Linked DNA regions of Homo sapiens: region 2 is linked to region 1. A link means that fine-mapping ties the variant in region 1 to the expression of a gene that starts in the linked region. Tissue or cell type: whole blood. Region 1 holds a variant in brackets; the other region holds the start of a gene. All regions are shown on one strand. Distances are from middle to middle.

Region 1 (5,523 bases):
TTGCAACAATCAACTACTTTTTTAAATCAATTAGAGTTATGTTTTTTCAAGTGGAAACTTTGTAAACTGCTGCTAGTTTTCCATCTGCACTGACAGCATAATGCACAATGGTCATTTTCTGGTGAAATGAGAACAAGTCATTGAGATCTGTACTGACTTCCGTAGAAGGACAAACACGCAGTAGTGTGTCTTCTGAAGCTTGCGGATTTTCAATTTTTTTTTTTTTTTTTTTTGAGACAGAGTTTCACTCTTGTTGCCCAGGCTGGAGTGCAATGGTGTGATCTTGATTCACTGCAACCTCCACTTCCTGGGTTCAAGCAATTCTCCTGCCTCAGCCTCCCGAGTAGCTGGGATAACAAGCGCCCGTTACCATGCACAGCTATTTTTTTTTGTAGTTTTAATAGACATGGGGTTTCACCATGTTGGCCAGGCTGGTCTCAAACTCCTGTCCTCAAGTGATCCGCCCACCTTGGCCTCCCAAAGTGCTGAGATTACAAGCATGAGCCACCGTGCCCGGCCTCAATGTTCTCCAAGCACATTACATTGTATAGAAAAATTAATAAATACGTTGGGTGACAAGTTAACTTATTACCTTTAAGGGCTTATTACCGTTTATCACTTTTCCTCCCACTTTTATTAAGGTTATAATTAAAAAATAAAAATTGTATATATTTACAATATACATGGTTTGATGTACATAGACCTCGTGAAATTAAATCTAGCTAATTAACATACCCACCTCGCACTTATTTGTGGTGAGAACATTTGAGAGCTAATCTCTTAGTAATTTCCAAGTATACATTAACTACAGTCACCACACTGTACAATAGATCTCCAGAACATATTTAACTTAACTGAAACTTTTTACCTTTAACCAACGCCCTCCCAAGCACCGCTCATCTCCCAGCCCCTGACAACCACCACTCCGCTCTCAGCTTCTGTGAGAGTTTGACTTTCTTGGATACCACATATAAGTGAGAAAATGCAGTATCTGTCTTTCTGTGCCTGGCTATTTCATTTATGAATAGGTTCATCTATATTGCTGCAAATGACAGGATTTCTTCTTTTGTAAGGGTGAAGAGTATTCCAGTGTACACATATACCACATTTTCTTTACCCATTCATCTACTGATGAACACTTCCACTGTCTCCATAACTTGACTATTGTGAATCATGCTGCGAGGGACACAGAAGTACAGGTATCTCTTTGATTTCAATTCCTTTGGATGTATACCCAGAAGTAGGATTGCTGGATCATATGGAAGTTCAGTTTTTATTTTCTGCAGAACTTCCATACTCATACTATTTTCCATATTGGTTGTACTAACATTCTCATCAACAGTCTAAGAGGGTCCCTTTATCTCACATTTTCCCAACACACTTGTTACCTTTTGCCTTTGATAATATCCATTCTAGTAGATGTGAGATGATACCTCACTGTGGTTTTGTATTTTTTAGTAGAGACGAGGTTTTGCCATGTGGCTAGGCCAGTCTTGAACTCCTGACCTCAAGTGATCTGCCTGCCTCGGCCTCCCAAAGTGCTGGGATTTACAGGCATGAGCCACTGCATCTGGCCACTCACTGTGGTTTTAATTTGCATTTCCCTGATTAGTGATATTGAGCACTTTTCATGTATCTGTTGGTCATCTGTATGTCTTCTATTGAGAAATTTCTATTAAGGTCCTCTGTTCATTTTTTTTTTTTGAGACGGAGTCTCGCTCTGTCGCCCAGGCTGGAGTGCAGTGGCGCGATCTCGGCTCACTGCAAGCTCCGCCTCCCGGGTTCACGCCATTCTCCTGCCTCAGCCTCCCGAGTAGCTGGGACTACAGGGGCCCGCTACCACGCCCGGCTAATTTTTTGTATTTTTAGTAGAGACGGGGTTTCACCGTGTTAGCCAGGATGGTCTCGATCTCCTGACCTCGTGATCCGCCCGCCTCGACCTCCCAAAGTGCTGGGATTACAGGCGTGAGCCACCGCGCCCGGCCTGTTCATTTTTTTAATCCGGTTATTTATTTTCTTGCTATTGAGTTGTATGGGTTCCTTGTATATTTTATATATTAACCCCTTATCAGATGTATGGTCTGCAACCATTTTATCCCATTCTACAGGCCATCTCTTCATTCTATTGTTTGTTTCCTTTTCTATGCAGAATTTTTTTTTTAGTTTAACACAATCCCATTTGTCTATGTTTGCTTCTGTGATACTTTTGAGGTCATATCCAAAACATCATTGCCCAGGCTAATGTCAAGAAGCTTTTTCTCTGTGTGTTCTTCAAGTAGTTTTATACTTTTGGATCTTACTAAGTCTTTAGTCCATTTTGCAGTCAAATCCTCTACCCCTGAGCCATGCCCCCAATCTTTAGTCCATTTTGAGTTGATTTTTGTATATGGTGTGAGAAAGGGGTTTAATTTTTCTGTATGTGGATGCCCAGTTTTTCCAACACCATTTATTGAAAAGACTCTCTTTTCCCCATTGTGTGTTCTTGGCAACTTTGTCAAAGAGCCAACCGACTGTAAATAT[G/A]AATTATTTCTGGGGTCTCTATTCTGTTCCATTGGTCTATATGTCTGTTTCTACACCACTACTATGCTGTTTTGATGACAGCTTTTTAGTATATTTTGAAGTCAAGTAGCATGATGCCTCCAGCTCTCTGTTTTTTTGTGTTTTTTTTTCGTTTTTCAACAAACCAAAACTTAAGAGATGCAGCAAAAGCAGCACTACAAGGAAGTTTACAGCAATCAACTCCTATATTAAGGAAGAAAGAGCTCAAATACACTTAACTTTACACCTCAAGGAATTAGAAAAGGAACAGCCCAAAGTCAGCAGAAGGAAAAAAATGAACATTAATGAAACCAGGAGTTTTTGAAAAGATAAAACTGACAAACCTTTAGCTGAACTAAAAGACAAAATTATACATGAAAGATGAGACATTACAATTGATACCACAAAAATACAAAGGATTATATAAGATACTACTATAGACAAATATATGCCAACCAATTAGATAACCTAGAACAAATGGATAAATTCCTAGAAACATACAACTTACACCAAGGCTGAATAATACAGAAATAGAAAATCTGAAGAGACCAATAGTAAGTAAGGAGATTGAATCAGAAATCACAAACCTCTCAACAAAGAATATCCCAGGATGTCACGGCTTCACTGGTGAATTTCATCAAATATTTAAAGAGAAGAATTAACACCAACCCTTCTTAAACTCTTTCCAACAACTGAAGAGGATGGAATCAACCCTTCCAAACTCATTTTGCAAGGCCAGCAAGGACACTACAAGAAAATAAAATTATGGGTCAATGTCCTTGATGACTAGAGAAGCAAAAATCCTCAATATAATACCAGCAAACCAAATTCAAAAGCACATTAAAAGGATCATACACCATGAACAAATGGGATTTATCCCTGGGATGCAAAGATGGTTCAACATATGCAAATTAATTAAAATTAACTAATACCACGTTAACAAAATCGAGGATAAAAATCAAGGGATCATCTCAATAGATGTATAAAAATCATTTGAAAGAATTCAACATCCTTTCATGATAAAAACTCTCAACAGATTAGGTATAAAGAATGGACCTCGACATAATAAAGGCCACATACGGCATGCCCGTAGCTAATATCATACTCAGTGGTAAAAAGCTGAAAGCCTTTCCTCTAAGATCAGGAGCAAAACAGGATGCCCACTCTTAACCACTTCTATTCAATATAGTACTAGAAGTTTTAGCCAGAGCTATTAGGCAAGAAAAATAAAATACATCAAAAATGGAAAGCAAGAAGTTACTCTGTCTCTGTTTGCAGATGATATAATCTTATATATAGAAAACCTTCAGAACTTCACCAAAAGATTGTTAGAATAAACTCAGTGAAGTTGTAGGATACTAAAATCAACATATAAAAATCAGTAGCACTTCTATTATATATACTAATAATGAACTATCTAAAAAATAAAGAAAATGATTTCATTTACAATAGCATCAAGAGAGAATAAGGCCGTGTGCAATGGTTCACACCTGTAATCCTAGCACTTTGGGAAGCCAAGGCAGAAGGACTGCTTGAGTCCAGGAGTTCAAGACCAGCCTGGGTAACGCAGAGATGTCTCTACAAAAAAATTTAAAAATCAGCCAGGCATGGTGGTACACACCTGCAGTCACAGTTACTTGGGAGGCTGAGGCAAGAGGATCACTTGAGCCCAGGAGTTCAATGCTGCAGTAAGCTGTGATCGCACCACTGCACTCTAGCTCAGGTGACAGAGTGAGACCCTGTCTCAAAAAAAAGAAAGAATGAAATACTTAGTAATAAATTTAACCAAGGAGGTGAAAGATCTGTATGCTGAAAACTATAAAACATTGCTAAAAGAAACTGAAGACATAAATAAATGGAAAGATATCCTGTATTCATGGGTTGGAAGAATTAACACTGTTAAAACTGTTCATACTCCCCGAAGTGACCTACAGATTTAATACTATTCCTATTAAAATTCCAATGTAATTTTTTACAGCGGAAAAAAATATTGTATGGAACTACAAAATGCCCCAAACAGCCAAAGCGTTCTTGAGCAAAAACATGCATGACATTTAAAAACTGGAAAGTTTTCAGCCAGGCATGATGGCTCATGCCTATAATCCCAGCACTTAGGGAGGCCGAGGCAGGTGGATCACTTGAGGCCAGGAGTTCAAGACCAGCTGGGCCAACATGGTGAAATCCCGTCGCTACCAAAAATATAAATATTAGCCAGGTGTGGTGGCTCATGCCTGTAATCCCAGCTACTCGGGAGGCTGAGGCAGGAGAATTGCTTGAACCCAGGAGGTGGAGGCTGCAGTGAGCTGAGATTGTGTCACTGTACTCCAGCCTGGGCAACACAGTGAGACTGTCTCAAAAAATAAATAAATAAAAAACAAAAGCTGGAAAATTTTCAAACAAAAACTTTTATAGGTGTCATTTATGAAGTACTTACTATGCCAAATGTGTAACAAATATGTTGTCCCTTATAACCATCCTCTGAGGGACAATCATTATTTCCATATTACAATTAGGAAAATGGAGGCTCTGATCCAATCAGAGACAGAATTCCACCCCAACTCTGACTCCTTCCTTATGTTCTAAGCTGACTCTCAAACAAATAACTAAGCAAACAATAGCTTTTGCTAGATAGCACCACGCTGTTGAAACCCACCTGTTTGAAGGAACCTCTGCAGGTATCTATAATTAAGTTAGGACTGTTCCAACTTGAACTAGTTGCTGTCAATTTAGTTTTAAAAACTGCTCCAGCCTGAGGCAGAATGTGCCTCTTAGGATCCTCAAAATTGTTTTGTCAATCATGGAGTAATCTTTACTGAAATGCTATAAATGTTTTTCTTTCCCTCTTCTTCCTGGAGAACTGATAACAATTCTGAAATGTGTAAGATGTCTGCCCCTCCTTTACTCAACTTTTTACAAAAAAACAGGGCCCTGAGATAGAGGGCCTTGCACACAGTCTCCTGCTCAGCTGCCTGAGAAGGCATTACT
Region 2 (5,523 bases), 36 kb after region 1:
CATCTAGGCTGGAGTGCAGTGGCATGATCATAGTTCACTGCAGCCTCAAACTCCTGGGCTAAAGCAATCCTCCTGCCTCAGCCTCCCAAGTAGCTGGGACTACAGGTGCATGTGCCACCATATCCGGTTATTTTTTATTTTTTTTGTAGAGACGGAGTCTCGCTATGTCAATGTTCTAAATTACCAAAAAAAAAAAAAAAAGATGGCATAAGCTGTCACCCATGCAACAGGCCTAAAACTTCCCGAAACACTTGAAAACAAGTTGACTTTTCTTATTGAAGGGTGAGTGAGAAGTGTAGTGGATGTTGCATAATTTGGATAGCTTCAACTCTCCTTACTAAAAATGATTTTTAAAACATGCACACATTATCCAACAAAAAGCCCGAGTGAAGTGTCCAACTTTTCACAGACCCACTCTGCTCTTTCAGAATCTGCTCACCCTATAGTTATTCCATCTCAACAGTCCTCAGCTCCCACAAGCACTGCCCCTTTCGGCCATTATCCCATTCCTCTTCCCAGTTCCTTGCACTGCCCCCAACTAGATCCTTTTCCATCCTCCTCCTCCCACTTGGGATAAAAAGTTAATGTATGCACACATTAACTCAGAACTATTTGTGAACTGATACTCATGAAATGAAACTAGTCTTGAATGTATCAATTCCAGTGGCCATTTGCCTGTGGTTTTTTGGTTTCTTTCTTTGGGGCCAGTTTGGATATTTTAAAAAATTACTTTTAAGCCTAGTCTTTTTTCCTTCTAACATTCCCTGCCGAGCGCGCACGCACACGCACACACACACACACACACACCCAGAACTCACTTTCGCTGAGGCAGAACCTCGACTAGAGTGATTTATGGACTAGGCAAGTCTAGAGCCCAGAAAGCATCCCTGTGCCCTAAGGGGATAAAATGTATTCCCAACTTGTGGGTCTCTACAGGAGGCAATTATTCCTCTACTGGCAGCTTCTCTTCCATCCTTATTCATTTTAACCTCCCCATAGGACAGCCAATACTTAATTTTTCTTCCATTGCTTCAGCAGCACCTTTCCCCAAACCTAGTAACAGAAAAAGGATCAAAGTTAATCACCTCTCAGTTTTCTCACTCAGTCTCTATCTTAGAAAAACTTCCTAAGTAGCTGCCTTAAAATGAGGGAGAAGGGCTGGGAGATGGAAGAATGACTGCTAATCGGTATAGGGGTTCTTTTTGGGGGCAACGAAATGGAATCAGATGGTAGTGATGATTTCATAACTTTACGGATATATTAAAAACCACTGAATTTTGACCTTAGAAGAGTAAATTTATATGTTTATTACACTTCAATTTTTTTTAAATAAAACGTGCTCAACATTTTAGTAGAGAAAGTTGGATGAAAGGAGAAACTGGCAGATGAACAGCTACTTAGCTGTTAACGCCACCTAAAAATGAACTTGAATAAACTCAGGAATTCAATATAAGCAAACAGACCCTCATTTCCATTCAGCTCCAGAGGTGGGGGGCAATGACGGTGAGGAAAGGAACTGCACGATTACACATCTGGATGATTAAGCTTCCTTATTAGCCTCGGGTATCAGGGTCTAATAGAATCCACTATTTAATAAGATGGGCTGACCCTCCGCAGAGGCCACGTGCGGAAAGCGAGCGCTGGCGGACGCCATAAATTGTTAACGCCAACTCGCCCAAGGCCTTCACTAGGTCACGCTCGTGCAGCACGGCTCGTGCTGACCCGCAAGAGCCACCAAGAACAGTTGCCTCTGAAAGTTCCACGGGACCCGGGTGAAGGAGATGAACGGTCAAGGAGCCGTGGCTGCCGCGAGCGCCACTGCGTGTTGCCCAAAGCGGCACAGAAAACGCAACATTCGGGGACCAGCCCGCTTCAGGGCCCCTACACCTTCCCTCGACCTGGAACCGCGGGACCTCGGAAACCCACGCTGCCCGCGCCGGGTTGGGCCGCCCCAGAGGCCGCAGCGCCCACGCCCCTCCCCCGCCTCCCCGCCCTCCAGCCCCGGCCGAAGCCACCTCGGAGTTGGCGGAGGGCGACCCGAGGCCACCTGCCCCTCTGGGGCCGAGGATAAAGGGGTCTTGACCGCCACTCCCTCCCGCGAAGGGCAACATCCAACTCCACGGAGAGCCGCTTCAGAGAGGGTCCCCCGTTCCGCCCCGGGCTAGGGAAGGGCCCAGAGGCATCCGAGGGACAGAGCGCCGGGCCGGGGTAGCCAGGCGCCCGCACCCTCCCGCCGGCCGGCCCGGCCCGAACTTTCTCGCTGCTCCGTGCCCGGCGCGCCTCTCCCTCCTCCAGACCGGCCGAGCGCCGCCGCTGCAGAGCGCGCCAAACTCCGACGGCCGCGGGGCCGACGCCACCTCTCGGACCCCCCCCCAGGACCGCCCCGAGGCCGCCGGGTTCACCCGCACGAGCGGGAGCCCGCGGGGGCTGCCCTCCGCCACCGCCACGGCCGCCGCGCAACCCCGGCGCGCGCCAAGTCGGCTCCGCGCGGGGCCAGCCCGAGGCAGGGGTAGGGGCCTCGCGCTCCGGGACAACCTCGCCGCGGCACGGGGCGCGGCACGGCCCCGCCGCGTCACTCACCTTCGGCCGCTCCTCCCAACCTGCCGGCCGCTCGCTCGCTCCGCCGCGGACCCGGAGCTCGGGGAAGGGCGGGGCGCAGGGGGCGGAGTCGGCCCCGGCTGGCAAGCGCCAGAATTAAAGCCCGAACCGCACGGCCGCCGCCGGGGCGGGGAAGCCGGGGCGGACCAGCAAGCCTCTCACCCGCGGTGGGCGACAGCTGTGGCTGCGCCCCGGAGCGGCGCGTGAGAAGAACGGCGCGGGCCGGCGAAGCCCCGGCTGCTCCCTCCGCCCAGAGGACGCCCGGCTCCCCGCGGGGGCGCTCTTTGTACCGCGGAGCCGGCCGCGGGCGGCCCTCAGTGCGCCTGCGCGCCGCTGCAACTCCACCAGGCCCGCGGGGCACCTTCGTGCACCTTCGTCGCCGCGCCTGGCCCGCGGGCCTCGCCGCGGCGAGAACTAAGCAGAAGAACTTCCTCCACCGCGGTTCGCTCCTTCTGCCAACCCGTATTTACCACGTCCATCCTCGCACACACACCCGCAAGGGGAGAAGAAATCCAGCCCCCGTGAGACGGTGCGGTGCTCCCATCTCCGGCTGGGGCGGGGGTTCTGGCAACGAGGCTGGCCTGCTCGACGTCCTCCCCCAGCGCCTCTGTACCTCCTCTCCCTCCCCGGGTGAGGGGGACCGGAGCGTGCAGAGCTCTGTTTCCTGCAGGTGCCTCGTCAGCACGGTCGCCCCGGCGGCCAGAAACCTCCCGCCTCCAAGGGCACCTCCCTTGTGACCTCCGTGCATTCGCCCTGGCTCGGCTGCAGGACAGAGTCCTCGGCGGAAAGGGGAGGATGCGTGTTCAGAAGGTTGCAGGTCTCTGGGGACTCCACAGAAGACCCAACGCCTGCCTCGGGGGCTCAGGATTGAACTGGCTTCCTAGTTCAGTCCCAAATACTCGATTTGGAGCAATCCAGTAGGTCCATGAGAAATTAGTAGGGATTGAGAAGCTGTGACTTCAGTCTTTTTCAAATTGAAGGTGGCTTGAACAAACAGAAGAGGAGCTTGGGAACTGAAGGGACGACTTTATAAAAACCAGGTATTACTCAAAAAACAATGTTAGCTCTGCAGTCAACTGATTTTCTTAAGGGAGAGAGTCCTCCCCTCACCCCCAAGCTCTCTAGCACCGCACACATCCAGCAGGGCGTTACACACGCTCAGTCTTTTTTGTGAGTGTGCAAGTGAAGAGCCATCAAACTTCACAAGGCGACATGCTTGCCTCTGGGGAGAAGACGCTGCTTTTCCACAGTTCACAGCGAAGCACACCTGCAAATTCCTGAACTTGATGGCTCCTGACTGTTTAGGGAATAGGCAAAGGGCAGCCGGAAGATATGTGAAGGCAGGAAAGCTCATTTTGAATCTCAGCGCCTTTGCCAGCTCACTGGGTGGCAGTAAGCAAACTCTTTCCTCCTCCTGGGCCTTGCTTTTTCGTCTGTAGAGTAGGGCATTTGGATGCAGTAGATATTTTCTAAAATCCCCCACCACCACCACCCCGCCCCAAATGTCTACTCTTCTATGAAAAGGAGAATTGTTTGCATGGTGATAAGGGATGAGATATCAGAGGCAGGAAGACTCCTGCATTTTAAAAGTGCTCGTCGGCCAGGCGCAGTGGCTCAGGCCTATAATCCTCACACTTTGGGAGGCCGAGACAGGTAGATCAGTTGACCCCAGGAGTTCTGGGCAATACAGTGAAATTCTGTTTTCACCAAAAAAAAAAAAAAAAAAAAAAAAAAATCAGCTGGGCGCGATGGCGCGCGCCTGTAGTCCCAGCTACTCTGGAGGCTAAGGTAGGAGGATCGCCTGAGCCCTGGAGGTCGAGGCGGCAGTGAGCAGAGATTGAGCCACTGCATTCTAGTCCAGGCTACAGAGTGTGACCCTGTCTCAAAAATAAATAAATAAATAGTGCCCTCGACCGGGTGCACTGGCTCACACCTATAATCCCAGCACTTTGTGAGGCCGAGATGGGTGGATCACTTGAGGCCAGGAGTTCAACACCGGCCTGGCCAACATGGTGAAACCCCATGTCTACTAAAAAATACAAAAAAATTCGCTGGGCGTGGTGACGTGCACCTGTAATCCCAGCTACTCGGGAGGCTGAGGCAGGAGAATCCTTGAACCCGGGAAGCTGAGGTTGCAGTGAGCCGAGATCATGCCACTGCACTTTGGCCTGGGCGACAGAGCACGACTCTAAGAAAAAAAAAAAAAAAGTGCTCTCCATCCCCAGAATTCCCAGCCTTCACCTCTCCTTTATTTCTCCCTCTTTGCATTTAGTCAGTAAACATTGATAGGCCCTCAAGAGTAAGCAAAACGAATCAATCAAAAGTATGGCAGATTCTGAATTTTTAGTGGATTTATACTTGAAATTTCATTTTTAATTTAGTTATTTTATTGACATACAATTCACATGCCATACAATTTACTCCCAAAATGTATAATTCAGTGGTTTTGAATATATTCCCAAAGTCACACAACCATCACCACTAATTCCAGACATTGACATCCCAGTAAGAAACCCCATACCCATTAGTCACTCCCCATTCCTCCCTACTCCCAGCCGCTGGCTACCACTAATTTACTTTCTGTCTCTATGGATTTGCTGATTCTGGACGTTGCATATAACTAGGAACATAACAACATGCTACTAGCTTCTTTCACTTAACATAATAGTTGCAAGGCTCATCCATGCTGTAGTATGTTTCAGTACTTTCTTCCTCCCCCTACCCATTATACCATTTACTGATGATAGAATTATACTGGAAAACTGTCACAAAAGAACAATCTTTGAATAGAACCGTTTACTAAGTGAAACATTTCTTGAAATATAACATGCGAAAGATTGTCAAACATGTCAGCATAGAAGCCCTTGGATTTATATAAAGACTCTCGCGAGGCTGGGCGCTTGTGCCTATAATCCCATCATTTGG

What was found. PIP is the estimated chance that this variant, and not a neighbour inherited with it, causes the effect.
Region 2: it holds the start of KANK1, and the variant in region 1 is fine-mapped to the expression of KANK1 in whole blood (TOPMed, PIP above 0.99).

Annotation. Positions count from the first base shown.
Region 1 is chr9:538,270-543,792 of GRCh38, reverse strand. All of the region lies in intron 1 of KANK1 (KN motif and ankyrin repeat domains 1), which reads right to left. Among named protein-coding and RNA genes, the nearest start is that of KANK1, 36 kb to the right of the region's middle. The variant G/A (reference allele first, on the strand shown) is at 2,521.
Region 2 is chr9:501,812-507,334 of GRCh38, reverse strand. It overlaps KANK1 (KN motif and ankyrin repeat domains 1), which reads right to left and starts at 2,640. Exons shown (of 12, transcript NM_015158.5): 1 at 2,581-2,640. LOC105375947 (translation initiation factor IF-2-like) reads left to right here and starts at 1,782. Exons shown (of 4, transcript XM_047424276.1): 1 at 1,782-2,075; 2 at 2,166-2,396; 3 at 2,514-3,638. The coding sequence starts at 1,782. The coding sequence ends at 3,335. RefSeq lists a silencer at 2,515-3,004.